Linked DNA regions of Homo sapiens. The protein of the gene in region 1 purifies or fractionates together with the protein of each later gene. This does not show direct contact. Each region holds a gene or a part of one and is shown in the gene's direction. Other genes may lie near its edges.

The links. Proteins that work in one complex are often made in the same cells at the same time.
Region 2: the proteins of CHAMP1 (region 1) and MGA purify together in Homo sapiens (affinity purification with mass spectrometry, with the first as the bait; one large-scale study listed by BioGRID). This does not show direct contact.
Region 3: the proteins of CHAMP1 (region 1) and SCAI purify together in Homo sapiens (affinity purification with mass spectrometry, with the first as the bait; one large-scale study listed by BioGRID). This does not show direct contact.
Region 4: the proteins of CHAMP1 (region 1) and CHAF1A purify together in Homo sapiens (affinity purification with mass spectrometry, with the first as the bait; one large-scale study listed by BioGRID). This does not show direct contact.

Annotation. Positions count from the first base shown.
Region 1 is NC_000013.11:114,321,003-114,324,502, forward strand, and holds part of CHAMP1 (chromosome alignment-maintaining phosphoprotein 1), read left to right. Parts: intron 1-107; 5' UTR 108-230; intron 231-1,060; exon of another isoform or gene 1,061-2,785; 5' UTR 2,786-2,840; coding exon 2,841-3,500. UniProt on the Homo sapiens protein: Required for proper alignment of chromosomes at metaphase and their accurate segregation during mitosis. Involved in the maintenance of spindle microtubules attachment to the kinetochore during sister chromatid biorientation.
Region 2 is NC_000015.10:41,666,905-41,670,404, forward strand, and holds part of MGA (MAX gene-associated protein), read left to right. Parts: intron 1-1,923; 5' UTR 1,924-1,990; coding exon 1,991-3,054; intron 3,055-3,500. UniProt on the Homo sapiens protein: Functions as a dual-specificity transcription factor, regulating the expression of both MAX-network and T-box family target genes. Functions as a repressor or an activator.
Region 3 is NC_000009.12:125,133,529-125,137,028, reverse strand, and holds part of SCAI (protein SCAI), read left to right. Parts: intron 1-3,500. UniProt on the Homo sapiens protein: Tumor suppressor which functions to suppress MRTFA-induced SRF transcriptional activity. May function in the RHOA-DIAPH1 signal transduction pathway and regulate cell migration through transcriptional regulation of ITGB1.
Region 4 is NC_000019.10:4,419,640-4,423,139, forward strand, and holds part of CHAF1A (chromatin assembly factor 1 subunit A), read left to right. Parts: intron 1-2,926; coding exon 2,927-3,156; intron 3,157-3,500. UniProt on the Homo sapiens protein: Acts as a component of the histone chaperone complex chromatin assembly factor 1 (CAF-1), which assembles histone octamers onto DNA during replication and repair.

The DNA of each region.
Region 1 (3,500 bases):
GTTAGGGCAGGATGGTGAGAGAAATACACAGAATTCCATTACAGGGGGCACACACGATCACAGATATAGTTTTGATTACTTTTCTTTTTTTTTTTTTTTTTTTCCAGGTTCAACTTCTCATCTTTGTTCTTCTTCATATACTATAGGCTGTTTGCTGTGGTTTAGTCAAAAAGCCATGTAGAATGCCTGCCTTTTGAAGACCACTTTTAAGGTGTCTAGTAAGACAGCAGGTAAGTCTAGTAGGGAAAGCATGCTTAGGAGAATATTTTATGAGGAGAAAATTAAAAAAAAATACCTGGAGTTCTTGAGGAAAATCTCTAAAAGTGTACACGCCCTTATGGATATAATGTGTGTTGTGTGCTAGATATACATAATTTGGGATATGAGAAGTGAATTCTGTAGCATTCTTTGTAGATTTAAGTATGAGATTGGCCTGAAGAGCTGGTGGTAGGCAGCGGGAAGAGGAGGGATGGCTGGGAGGAATGGGGAATGGTAGGTGAGTCAGACTCAAACCCAGCACACCTGAGCTCTTAGTCTCTGTTGTAATTACAATATGTAATATAGTGCTCTTTAATATTAGCTTGGCTGTTCATTATTGCCAGTTGGGCTGTTCATTATTGCCTCATGGGATTATTGAGACATATCCTACGTTTTCCCCTAAAGTCTTCTAGTTTTATTTAACAATGGGCTCTGAGACGGATGGTTAACCCATTATTTTTCCATGCATTCAATTACGTTTGTAAGTTAAAGATCATTTTCAGAGATTTTTCATCAGTACGGAATTATTTATTTTTCTTTTGTTACAGTCCTGGCCCCAAAACAGTTTTCTAAAATACAGGATAACTGCTGGGCAACTCAGAAAGAGTAAATAGTTTCCGAAGAAAAGTATTTGTTTCCTCAAGTATCTGTCACCTTTTTAGCTTTAGATCAAAAAATAAAAAAGGCAAATGATATACCTTGGATAAAAGTGTTAGGAAGCAGTATTGCCAGTGAGAACATCTTTAAAAACAAATTATCAAAGTTAGAAATGTTAATTTTTTTTTTTTTTTTTTTTTTTGAGATGGAGTCTTGCTCTGTCACCAGGCTGGAATGCAGCGGCATGATCTCAGCTCTCTGCAACCTCCGACTTCTGGTCCAAGCGATTGGCCTGCCTCAGCCTCCCAAGTAGCTGGGACTACAGGCACACGCCACCACGCCTGGCTAATTTTTGTATTTTTAGTAGAGATGGGGTTTCACCATGTTGGCCATGATGGTCTTGATCTCCCGACCTCGTGATCTGCCTGCCCGGCCTCCCAAAGTGCTGAGATTACAGGCATGAGCCACTGCGCCCAGCCTATACATTTTTTTAAAATAATGGTTTTGTAATTAATAAAGGGAGAGCCTGCATTTCTAATCTGTACTGTTCTTTGAGGAGGAGTAAATATCATTACCGTCAATAAGGGAAGGTGTTCAGTCTTTCTCATTAAAGAGAAGCACATTAACACAATAGTGAAATACTAGCTTTCACCTAGGTTGTAGCAAGGATTAGGAATTTATAGGAAATTGTCTCTCATATATACACGTTGTTATGCAGTAATAGAAGTTTTTGAGAGTTTGGTAAAATGTATCAATTTTACACACAAATGGCCAAGTAATCCATTGCTAGGAATTTTCCCTGCAGAAATACCCTCACATGCACAGATAAGTACAGGGAAAGTCAGTGCTTATTCCATATGTAAAAATGTCTTAGAGATAAATTCTAAATGAGAGTAAGTTGCCAGATAATATGTTTAATATCCCATTTGTGTAAAGCATGTGTGTTGATCAATATATGCTTAGGACATTTCTTCCAGGACACATGAGTACACTGGCTACCCCTAGGGACTGACACTCTGTATCTCGTACTGTGTGAATGTGTTTTTAACTGTGAGCTTCTATTCCCTTTACTACTTAAGAAGACTGGTTTACAATTTTTTTAAATTCATGTTTTCCGGCAACTGTGTTCCAGCTGCTGGGGTGTCCTCTGATTTGCCCTTTGGTTGGTATGCGCCTTCACATCATTCAGGATCTCTGCTGGAATGTCCCATGCATAGAGGTCTTTTCCAACGGCCTCTACATCACTCTCCACCTTATCTTTCCAACTCATGAACGCCATATTGCAAAGCACTGCTTTAAGCCTAAGTGCCTAGAACATTGTAGGACACAAAGTTATTTATTTATTAAATGAATTAATAGAATACTATATTGGGATAGATTAAACATTACAAAATATGTTGACATGAAATCAAGCCAGCATCATGTTTTAAAGTCATCTTTTTATAGCTAGATTTAATTTATTAAGTGCTTTCTGCAAAAGTTTTAGTCTCTTGTTCATCCTTAAATAGCCAAGATTTAATTTTGATATTCACTCATCTTTGTGTGCTGAGGACTTTTGTACTCGGAGTTTGAGAGTCAAAGTATAAAGCACATGCAATAGCTAATTCTAGAGTCAGGCTCACATCACTGATAGTCCTATAGCCTGGACCAGAGAAAGTCAGGTAACTTCTCTGAACCTGTTTCTTCATCTGTAAGTGAAAATAATAGTTGAGTCATATCATTAGGATTAAATGAGATGATGTATGTGAAACTCCTAGCAGAGTGCCTGGGACTGTTCTATATCTCCTTTTTCTTCAAATTCTCCCTAGAGATACTATCAAATAAAGCACGCACTGTTCTAGACTTAAAATTATGCAGTTATAGAATGGACTGACAGCATTTTATTCAGAATTACAGTTCATGAAAATAATTTATTCCTACTTTATTGCAGCAGTATTGAAAGTTTTTAAAGAATATAACCGTGTGTGTTGGTAACAGACAGAAGAATGGAAGCATTCCAGGAACTTCGTAAACCATCAGCACGTTTGGAGTGTGACCATTGCAGTTTCAGAGGCACAGACTATGAAAATGTACAAATCCATATGGGTACCATCCATCCAGAATTTTGTGATGAAATGGATGCTGGTGGGCTAGGCAAAATGATATTTTACCAGAAAAGTGCAAAGTTATTTCACTGCCATAAATGCTTCTTCACCAGCAAGATGTACTCTAATGTATACTATCACATCACATCCAAACATGCATCCCCAGACAAATGGAATGATAAACCAAAAAATCAGTTGAACAAAGAAACAGATCCTGTGAAAAGCCCTCCTCTTCCTGAACACCAGAAAATACCCTGCAATTCAGCAGAACCAAAATCCATACCTGCCCTTTCAATGGAAACACAGAAACTTGGTTCAGTTTTGTCTCCAGAATCGCCAAAACCTACTCCTCTTACTCCCCTGGAGCCTCAGAAACCTGGCTCTGTTGTTTCTCCTGAGCTACAGACACCTCTTCCTTCTCCTGAGCCTTCAAAACCTGCCTCTGTTTCTTCTCCTGAACCTCCAAAATCAGTCCCTGTTTGTGAGTCTCAGAAACTTGCCCCTGTTCCTTCTCCAGAACCACAGAAACCTGCCCCTGTATCTCCTGAGTCAGTAAAGGCT
Region 2 (3,500 bases), on another chromosome or scaffold:
AAAGTCCTGGGAACAATTCTTTGTCATAGGATGATATATGGATTTGTACTTTTGATATTTTCAAGTTGCCCTCTCTTAGAGATTCTATTATTTTATACTCCCAGTAACTGCTTAGGGGAGAATGCTGGTTGACCTAACCCTTTCCAGCACTACCAGGCTTTGATTTTTGCCAGTCTGATAAGTAAAAAAACAGTATCTCAAGATGACTTTAATTTGCTTTCCTCTTAACTATGTACATATTCATAGCCATTTGCGTTTATTATCCTTTACTCATTTTTCTGTTAGGTATTTGGTCTTGTTGATTTGTAGGAAGCCTTTAAAAATTATTATTACTGTTAATGTATTTTTATTTTTTTTTTTGAGTCAGAGTCTCGCTCTGTCACCCAGGCTGAAGTGCAGTGGTGCCATCTTGGCTCGCTGCAACTCCACCTCCTGGGTTCAAGCAATTCTCTTGTCTTAGCCTCCCGAGTACCTGGGATTATGGGCGCACACCACCATGCCTAGCTAATTTTTTTATTTTTAGTAGAGACAGGGTTTCACCATGTTGGCCAGGCTGGTCTTGAGCTCCTGACCTCAAGTGATCTGACCTCCTTGGCCTCCCAGAGTGCTTGGATTACAGGCGTGAGCCACTGCTCCCCCGCCGCTATTATTTTTTAATAGAGACGGACTTTCACTACGTTGGACAGGCTGGTCTGGGACTCCTGACTTCAAGCAATCCTCCTGCCTTGGCCTCCCAAAGTGCTGGGATTATAGGTGTGAGTCACCATGTCCAGCCCCCTTTTTATATTAGGGAAAGGAGTTCTTTATAAGTTGCAAATACCTTTTCCTGGTTAGTTTGCTTTTTGATTTTGCTTAAATGATTTTGCCAGATTAAAAAATTTACAGAATATTAAATTTTATTTTATTTTTATTTCTTTGAGACGGAGTCTTTCCCTGTCACCCAGGCTGGAGTGCAGTGGCGTGATCTTGGCTCAGTGCACCTTCTGCCTCCTAGGATCAAGTGATTCTCATGCCTCAGCCTCCTGAGTAGCTGGGACTACAGGCGTGCACCACCACACCAGGCTAATTTTTTAATTTTTAATAGAGATGGGGTTTCGCCATGTTGGCCAGGCTAGTCTCGAATTCCTGGCTTTAAATGATCCACTGGCCTCAGCCTCTCAAAGTGCTGGGATTGCAGGTGTGAGCCACCACACCTGGCATCATATAGTATTAAATTTATCACTTTTTTTTTTTTTGGCCTTACTGGTTTTAGATTTTGTGTCTTATCAAAAAACTTTTCTCAGGATTTAGGAATAAAAAAATTAAATATTAGAGTCATCTGGAATTTATTTCAGTGTAAGGTCCATTGAGTTCCAGTGATTTGTCATGGCTTCTTTAAACGTGTGTACTAAGAAGTTAGATAGCTTTTTACTTATTTATGGAACCATGTCTTCTGAACCATATGAAGAACTAATTCTGTACAATTAGCTCTTTGGGATGAAAATGGAACTTTACTTATTTAATTTACTCATCACTGGGGAACTTGCTATATAAAGGAATCTTCTGGTAAATTCATAAAGTGTTAGGATGCTTTAAAAATGCATAACCTTCAAATTTAACTTTTTAATTTTGTATACTTTTTTAATAATGAATATACTCTTTTGTTTCTTTGTGTGAGATTATAGTATTTATAGTGAATTGTTAGAGGATTAGGATATAAGCACCTTAACTAATTAGATTAAAATGAACTTTAAAAAATGATTAGATATTCCAGAGTAAATATTCTTACTGTGATTGAAAGAAAAGCTTAGAAGCAAAGTCTTAGAAGAATTTAGGAATATTTTGGGGATAACATAATCGTTCTTGTATTTTTGTTCAAGAAATAAATACTCACTTGATTAAAGGGTGTTTTTTGTTTTTGGTTTTTTTTTGCTTGTTTCTTAGGATGGGAAGGCCATTGTGACTATGTGGTGATTACAGTTGTCTTACTACTGAGTTTCCTACTGAAATCATGGAGGAGAAACAGCAGATTATATTGGCTAATCAAGATGGTGGAACAGTGGCAGGAGCAGCACCTACCTTCTTTGTCATCTTAAAGCAGCCAGGAAATGGCAAAACTGATCAAGGAATTTTGGTTACTAATCAGGATGCCTGTGCTTTGGCTAGTAGTGTGTCATCACCAGTAAAATCTAAAGGGAAGATTTGCCTTCCAGCTGATTGTACTGTGGGTGGAATCACTGTTACCCTCGATAACAATAGTATGTGGAATGAGTTCTATCATCGAAGCACAGAGATGATTCTGACCAAGCAAGGAAGACGCATGTTTCCTTACTGTCGTTATTGGATAACAGGTTTAGATTCAAATTTGAAGTATATTCTTGTCATGGATATATCTCCTGTGGATAACCATCGTTATAAGTGGAATGGTCGTTGGTGGGAACCTAGTGGGAAGGCTGAACCTCATGTTTTGGGGAGGGTTTTCATTCATCCAGAATCTCCTTCCACAGGTCATTATTGGATGCATCAACCAGTATCTTTCTATAAACTCAAACTTACCAACAATACACTGGACCAAGAAGGGCATATCATCTTGCACTCTATGCATCGTTACCTGCCGAGGCTTCATTTGGTGCCTGCAGAAAAGGCTGTGGAGGTGATACAATTAAATGGCCCTGGTGTCCACACTTTTACCTTCCCACAGACTGAATTCTTTGCAGTAACAGCTTATCAGAACATTCAGATTACTCAGCTGAAAATAGATTACAATCCATTTGCCAAAGGCTTTCGGGATGATGGGCTGAATAATAAGCCCCAGAGAGATGGAAAACAAAAGAACAGCTCTGACCAAGAAGGGAATAATATTTCCAGTTCTTCTGGTCATCGGGTCCGTCTTACAGAAGGTCAGGGGTCAGAGATACAACCAGGTGATTTGGATCCTTTGTCAAGGGGTCATGAAACATCAGGCAAGGGTTTGGAGAAGACTTCCCTTAATATAAAACGAGACTTTCTTGGTTTCATGGATACTGATTCAGCACTTAGTGAAGTTCCTCAATTGAAGCAAGAGATTTCTGAATGGTAAGTAGTAGTTTTTCTGTTCTTAGAAATAAAAGGAAGATTGAGATGGGCCAGGTGTTGGATTTAACATCTTGGTTCTGTGGAATGCTACAGATGTTGATAAATGTAAGCCACTATAAAATATACTACAACTGCTTTTACATTCTGTGAAGTGACATCATTTTTCTGTAATGAGAATCAGTTGGGTTCAGGATCTAGAATTGTAGGCAAATTGGATAACTTATCAGAATTATTCATATGTATTTAGAATGTTCCTTGATATCCTTGGGGGATTGGTTCCAGGACCACCCAAGAATACCAACACCTGACTACATTTGAGACTCCATCTCAATAAAAAAAAGAAAATCATACCAATTATGACAACATAGATGAGCCTAGAGAATACTATGCTAAGTGAAATAGGCAAAACAAAAAAAGACAAATACTGCAAAATATTCATAAAAGTA
Region 3 (3,500 bases), on another chromosome or scaffold:
TCCCAGCACTTTGGGAGGCCGAGGCGGGTGGATCACAAGGTCAGGAGTTCAAGACCAGCCTGACCAAGATGGTGAAACCCCATCTCTAAAAAATACAAAAATTAGTCAGGCACAATGGCGCATGCCTGTAATCCCAGTTACTTGCGAGGCTGAGGCAGGAGAATCACTTGAACCTGGGAGAAGGTTGCAGTGAGCCGAGATCGCTGCACTCTAGCCTGGGTGACAGAGCAAGACTTCGTCTCAAAAAAAAAAAAAAAAAGTGGTATTAGTTGCCGGGCATGCTGGCTCACACCTGTAATCCCAGCACTTTGGGAGGCCCAGGCTGGCAGATCACGAGGTCAGGAGTTTGAGACCAGTCTGGCCAATGTAGCGAAACCCCGTCTCTACTAAAAGTACAAAAATTAGCCGGGCGTGGTGGCAGGCAGCTGTAATCCTAGCTACTCAGGAGGCTGGGGCGGGAGAATCGCTTCAACCTGGGAGGCAGAGGTTGCAGTGAGCTGAGACCACGCCATTGCACTCCAGCCTGGGCGACAAAGCGAGACTCCATCTCAAAAAAAAAAAAAAAAAAAAAAGAAAGGTATTAGTATCAGTTTTATACTGTGGCTATAGAAATTCTGAATATCAAATGATATAAATTCCTGGTAAACACTTCAAGATGAATTAATTGAGGCAGATGAATGGTGTGAGCCCAGGAGTTCAAGACCAGTCTGGGCAACATGGTGAAACCTCATCTCTACCAAAAATACGAAAATTAGCCAGGTGTGGTGGTACACACCTGTAGTCCCAGCTAGTTGGGAGGCTGAGGTGGGAGGATCAGCTGAGACTGGGAGGTGGAGGCTGCAGTGAGCCATGATTGCACCACTGCACTCCAGCCTGGGCAACAGTGAAAACCTGTCTCAAAAAAAAAAAAAAAGGTAAGTTAATTGTTGAATGTAGCCTTGAGTAACTGATTGAACGGGTCTGCTATGTAGAGTTGTTGACAGTTATATTACATATGTAGTACATTTTAGAAAACAGTTGACAGAATTATGGTTTTTTTTTTGTTTTTTTTTTTTTTGTTTGAGATGGAGTTTTGCTTGTTGACCAGGCTGGAGTGCAATGGTGTGATCTCGGCTCACTGCAGCCTCTGCCTCCTGGGTTCAAGTGATCCTCCTGCCTCAGCCTCCTGAGTAGCTGGGATTACAGACATGCGCCACCACACCCAGCTAATTTTGTATTTTTAGTAGAGATGGGGTTTCTCCATGTTCGTTAGGCTGGTCTTGAATTCCTGACCTCCGGTGATCCGTCCGCCTTGGCCTCCCAAAGTGCTGGGATTACAGGCATGAGCCACCATGCCCAGCCCAGAATTAGGATTTTAAAAATTTTTATTTAGTTTTGAGATGGAGTCTCACTCTGTTTCCCAGACCGGAGTGCAGTCATGCTATCTCGGTTCACAGCAACCTCTGCCTCCTGGGTTCAAGTGGTTCTTGTGCCTCTGCCTCCTGAATACCTGAGATTACAGGGGCGCACCACCATGCCCAGCTAATTTTTTCTGTTTTTAGTAGAGGCGGGGTTTCCCCATGGTGGCTAGGCTGATCTCGAACTCCTGGCCTCAATTGATCCGCCTGCCTTGGCCTCCCAAAGTGCTGGGATTACAGGCGTGAGCCATCGTGCCTGGCCTAAAATTATGATTTTTATTTTAGGATATTGATGTTAAATAATTCTTTTTGATAGGTGTTAGTTAGTGGCTGAGTTATCTTTTGAGAACATTTCTAGTGCAGACCAAACTGTAAGACAGTTTAAGAAAAACAAAGACAGTTTGAGATAAGAACCTCATGCATTATTATTTCTTTGTATCTTTTTCCCCTTAAAACTTTTATTTCCTTATCATAGTTCATCTTTGCACCCTTATAAGGTACTAAGGGGGAGCTCAGTAAAACTAGTGAACCAATAAATGAATTGGTGGCAAGAGGAGTTAGTGTGGGATGGGTTTGGTTGTCCAAAATAATGTGATACTATTTAATGCCCCTGAAAAACTGCAATGGACTGAAAGGAGTTTTAAGATTAGGAAACTGGCCGGGCGTGGTGGCTCATGCCTGTAATCTCAGCATTTTGGGAGGCTGAGGCGGGCGGATCACCTAAGGCTGGAAGTTCAAGACCAGCCTGACCAACATGGAGAAACCCCGTCTCTACTAAAAATACAAAATTAGCCTGGCGTGGTGGCGCATGCCTGTAATCCCAGCTACTCAGGAGGCTGAGGCAGGAGAATCGCTGGAAACTGGGAGGCGGAGGTTGCAGAGAGCCGAGATCGTGCCATTGCACTCTAGCCTGGGCAACAAGAGCGAAACTCCATCTCACACACACACAAAAAAGATTAGGAAACTTGGTCTCTATGTGCTTTTGGAAAATTCTGAAGAGTCCAATATGTCTGTTAATGATGTTTGGGTTATGAGTTGGAGAATCCTTTCTGGTCCTATTAGGAACAAGATCCATTTGTTTGGATAGGATTCACATTGATGAAAGCTTTACTGTATGATTTGGGGGCTTTTGTTGTTGTTGTTGTTGTTACATATTTAAAGCAAAGAGATCCGGGCATTTTGTTGTTGTATGTAATTTGTTTAAGAAACATTTGAATGCTTTCTAGTTCTGGGTTCTAGGGATATAGATATGAGTGAGGTGGCCGTTGTTGGGGAAAATCTCATGTATTAATGGGAAGACAGACACTGAAATATGAGACAGTGTAATGACTTTGTATATATACAAAGGTTTACACAGTACATACAAAGGGTTTATAGGAATTCTGCATAGTGGTAGTGAGGGCAGTTTCTGCAGTCATTTATCTAAGCCCTGAAGGTTTAGAAGGTTAATTTGTTGGTAGTGTGACTATTGAAATGACAAGAGATGACAGCCTAGATGTAGACTGACTAATAATGAGGTCTTGGGTGAACTAAATTCAGGACCTGAACCAAGATAGTGCCAGAAGTGGAAAGAAAGATGTTTTTAAGAGCTTGGGCTGTGGTGTCAGACTAAGGGGTGGTTCTCAACTAAGGGGGTTTTGCCTCCTAAGGGACATTTGAGAATGTCTGGAGACATTTTGGGTTGTTACAACTTGGAGCACCTAGTGAGTAGAGGCCAGATATACTGCTACACATCCTAAAATGCATGGGACAGCATCCTAATCTAAGAGTTCCCCAGCTCAAAATGTCATTAGTTCTGAGGCTGAGAAATCTTGCATTAGAGTTTGAATCCTAGCCCTTCCAAATGTCCTCACCAATACTTGGTCTTGTGATTCTTTCTTTTTTTTTTGTTTTTTGAACAGGTCTGTAGAGGTACAGTTGGCATACAGTGAGCTGTACATATTTGAAGTGTACAATTTGATAAGTTTTGAAATACATGTATACCCTTAAAACCACCACCATTGTTTGCCATTCTGTGGGTGTACACTGGTACGTGTCATTGTGGTTTTCATTTGCCTTTCCCTGATGACTGATAATGTTGAGTATCTTTTCATGTGCTAATTT
Region 4 (3,500 bases), on another chromosome or scaffold:
AGGCTGGTCTCAAACTCCTGACTTCAGGTGATCCACCCACCTTGGCTTCCCAAAGTGCTGGGACTACAGGTGTGAGCCACCACGCCCAGCCTGATTTTTATTTTTACAGTTTATCTCATTCTTTGGAACAAGAGCACTTTTAAAGCTCATTGGAACCTCCGAGTCCCGCACACCGGGTTGGGGAGCGGAGAAAGTATCCAACGGCGGCTGAAGAAATCTGATTCACCTGCAGTTTCTAGAAGCCTTCTATTTCCTGCTTAGCAACAGGGTGGGAGACTCTTCACCCAGTTATGTTTATAGTCTCCTTGTTCAGTCCAGACGGTCACCTTCCTCGTGTGTCTCGTATATCAGATGCAGTCACACAGCACACTGGCAGGAAATGCACATCAGACATCTTCCAGGCTGTGTCTCTGTGGCTTTTGTTAAAGCTACCAGAGATGTATTGGAACACATTTAGAATTTTTCCTTAGAGACAAGGGCAGATATCCTAACCCAAACTGAAAGCTGAGCTGTCAGGCTCCAGACGTGTGGGAAGCCCATATTGGATGAGAGGTGGTCCTCATGCAGTGTTAGGAGCGGGCACCTGTGGAGCTGGGCAGGTGAGCGTTTTTTTTTTTTATTTTGAGACAGTCTCGCTCTGTTGCCCATGCTGGAGTGCAGCGGCGTGATCTCGGCTCCCTGCAACCTCCACCTCCCAGGTTCGAGCGATTCTCCTGCCTCGGTCTCCCAAGAAGCTGGGATTACAGGCACGTGCCTTCATGCCCAGCTAATTTTTGTATTTTTAGTAGAGACGGGGTTTCACCATGTTGGCCAGGCTGGTCTCGAACTCCTGACCTCAAGTAATCCGCCTGCCTCGGCTTCCCAAAGTGCTGGGATTACAGGTGGGAGCCTGCGCCTGGCTGAGCATGTTTAACATTGAACTTCAGATTACGTAATGACTGAGTGTCCCAGGCCACTGCCAAGTCTTTGGAATGAGGAACGTAGTGATGAAGTGTTACTTCCTTAAAGAATTTGAAACAAGGCTGGGCGTAGTGGCTCGCCCCCATAATCCCACACTTTGGGAGGCCAAAGTGGGAGGATTTCTTGAGCCCAGGAGTTTGAGACAAGCCTGGGCAACGTAGTGTCTCTACTAAAAAGAAAAAGAATTCCTGGGCTGGTTGCAATGGGTCATGCCTGTAATCCTAGCACTTTGGGAGGCTGAGGTGGACAGATTGCTTGAGCGCAGGAGTTAAAGATCAGTCTGGGCAACATAGTGAGACTCCATCTCTACAAAAATTAGCCAGGTGTGGTGACAGGTGCCTGTGGTCCCAGCTACTCGGGAGGCTGAGGCAGGAGGACTGATTTGAGCCCAGGACGGAGGTTGCAGTGAGCCAAGATAGCATTGCTGCACTCCCTCCAGCCTGGGCACTAGAATGAGACTCTATCTCCAAATAAATAAATAATGTTTTTTTGTTTTGTTTTTCAGACAGAGTCTTGCTCTGTCACCCAGGCTGCAGTGCCGTGGCGTGATCTTGAACTGCCTTGTGGGTTTAAGCGATCCTTGTGCCTCAGACTCCTGAGTAGCTGGGACTATAGGTGTGCGCCACCACATTCAGCTAATTTTTTTGTATTTTTGGTAGACTTGGGGTTTCACCTTCTTGGCCAGGCTGGTCTCAAACTTCTGGCCTCAAGCAATTTGTCTGCCTCAGCCTCCCAAAGTGCTGGGATTATAGGTGTGAGCCCCCTCAGCCCAGCAGGATTGTGTTTTAAATGAATCTTATATTGAATTTCCCACAAGTACCAGGACACAGGGCTAATTCTTAACATTTTTCTCATGATGGAAGGAAGCATAATGGATTATGAAAATCACTTCTGTGGCTGGGTGCTGGGGCTCATGCCTATAATTCCAACACTTTGGGAGGCTAAGGCAGAAGGATTGTTTGAGGCCACGTGTTCAAGACCAGCCTGGGCAACACAGCAAAACCCCATCTCTAGGAAAATTACAAAAATAGCTGGGTATAGTGGTGTGTGCTTATAGCCCCTGCTACTCAGGAGCCTGAGGTGGGAGGATCACTTGAGCCTGGGAGGTCGAGGCTGCAGCCAGCTATGACTGCACCACTGCACTCCACCATGGGCAACAGAGTAGACTTTGTCTCAAGAAAAATAAAATCACTTCTGTGTAAAGTTGTTGACTGGAGGCTCCTCCTGGAGCTGGTCTCTGAATTCTTATTTATTCATTTATTTTTTTAACTGAGTCTCAGTTGCCCAGGCTGGAGTGCAGTGGTGTGACCTCAGCTCACTGCACCCTACGTCTCCTGGTTCAAGTGATTCTCCTGCCCCAGCCTCCTGAGTAGCTGGGACTACGGGTACCCTCCACCACGCCTGGCTAATTTTTTTTTTTTTTTTTATTAAATGGAGTCTCACTCTGTCACTGATGCTGGAGTGCAGTGGCACCGTGTTGGCTCACTGCAACCTCCGTCTCCTGGTTTCAAGCAATTCTTCTGCCTCAGCCTCCCCAGTAGCTGGGATTACAGGCGCCCACCATGCCTGGCTAGTTTTTTTTAAAAATATTTTTAGTAGAGATGGGGTTTCACCATCTTGGCCAGGCTGGTCTCGAACTCCTGACCTCAGGTGATCCACTTGCCTCGGCCTCCCAAAGTGCTGGGATTACAGGCGTGAACCACCGCGCGCAGCCAATTTTTGTATTTTTAGTAGAGACAGGGTTTCACCCTGTTGACCAGGCTGGTCTCAAACTCCTGACCTCAGGTGATCTACCCACCTCAGCCTCCCAAAGTGCTGGAATTACAGGCGTGAGCCACCATGCCTAGCCTTGGTCCCTCAATTCTGTTCATCCCGTCCAGGCCGTGCTGTCCTCCATGCTGTGAACCGAGCTTCCTCCTGGGAGTTGGAGGGAGGGCCACCTGTCACTTGCCACACTGTCTTGTAGGATCAGGAGCGTCTGGGCAAGCAGCTCAAGTTACGTGCAGAAAGGGAAGAAAAGGAGAAGCTGAAAGAGGAGGCCAAGCGGGCCAAGGAGGAGGCCAAGAAGAAGAAGGAGGAAGAGAAGGAGCTTAAGGAAAAGGAGAGGCGGGAGAAGCGGGAGAAGGATGAGAAGGAGAAGGCGGAGAAGCAGCGGCTCAAGGAGGAGCGGCGCAAGGAGAGACAGGAAGCCCTGGAGTGAGTGTCCTTGGAGGCCATGCTGGGCCCGCCACCCTGCTGCTGGATTCCGCTCCTGGCCACTCTGATGGGGCCTTTCCACTTCACAGGCAGATGGCGGCTCCCTTCAGTTCCTTCCCATTTCTCCTTCGTGAGGTGCCCGTGGGGCCCTGACGTGGGAGCGGTGGAAAGCAGCTCCCTGCTCTTTAGTGCTCCCCCACGTCCAACTCACCCTGGACCCCTTGTCTCTGCTGTGACCATCCTTCCAGTTCCCAACCAACTTAGGCATTTGCATTGCAGGATTGTGGGTTTTGTCTGTGCTAATTGTGCTCTGACTGGCTAAAGTTTTTTATATATATTCTAGT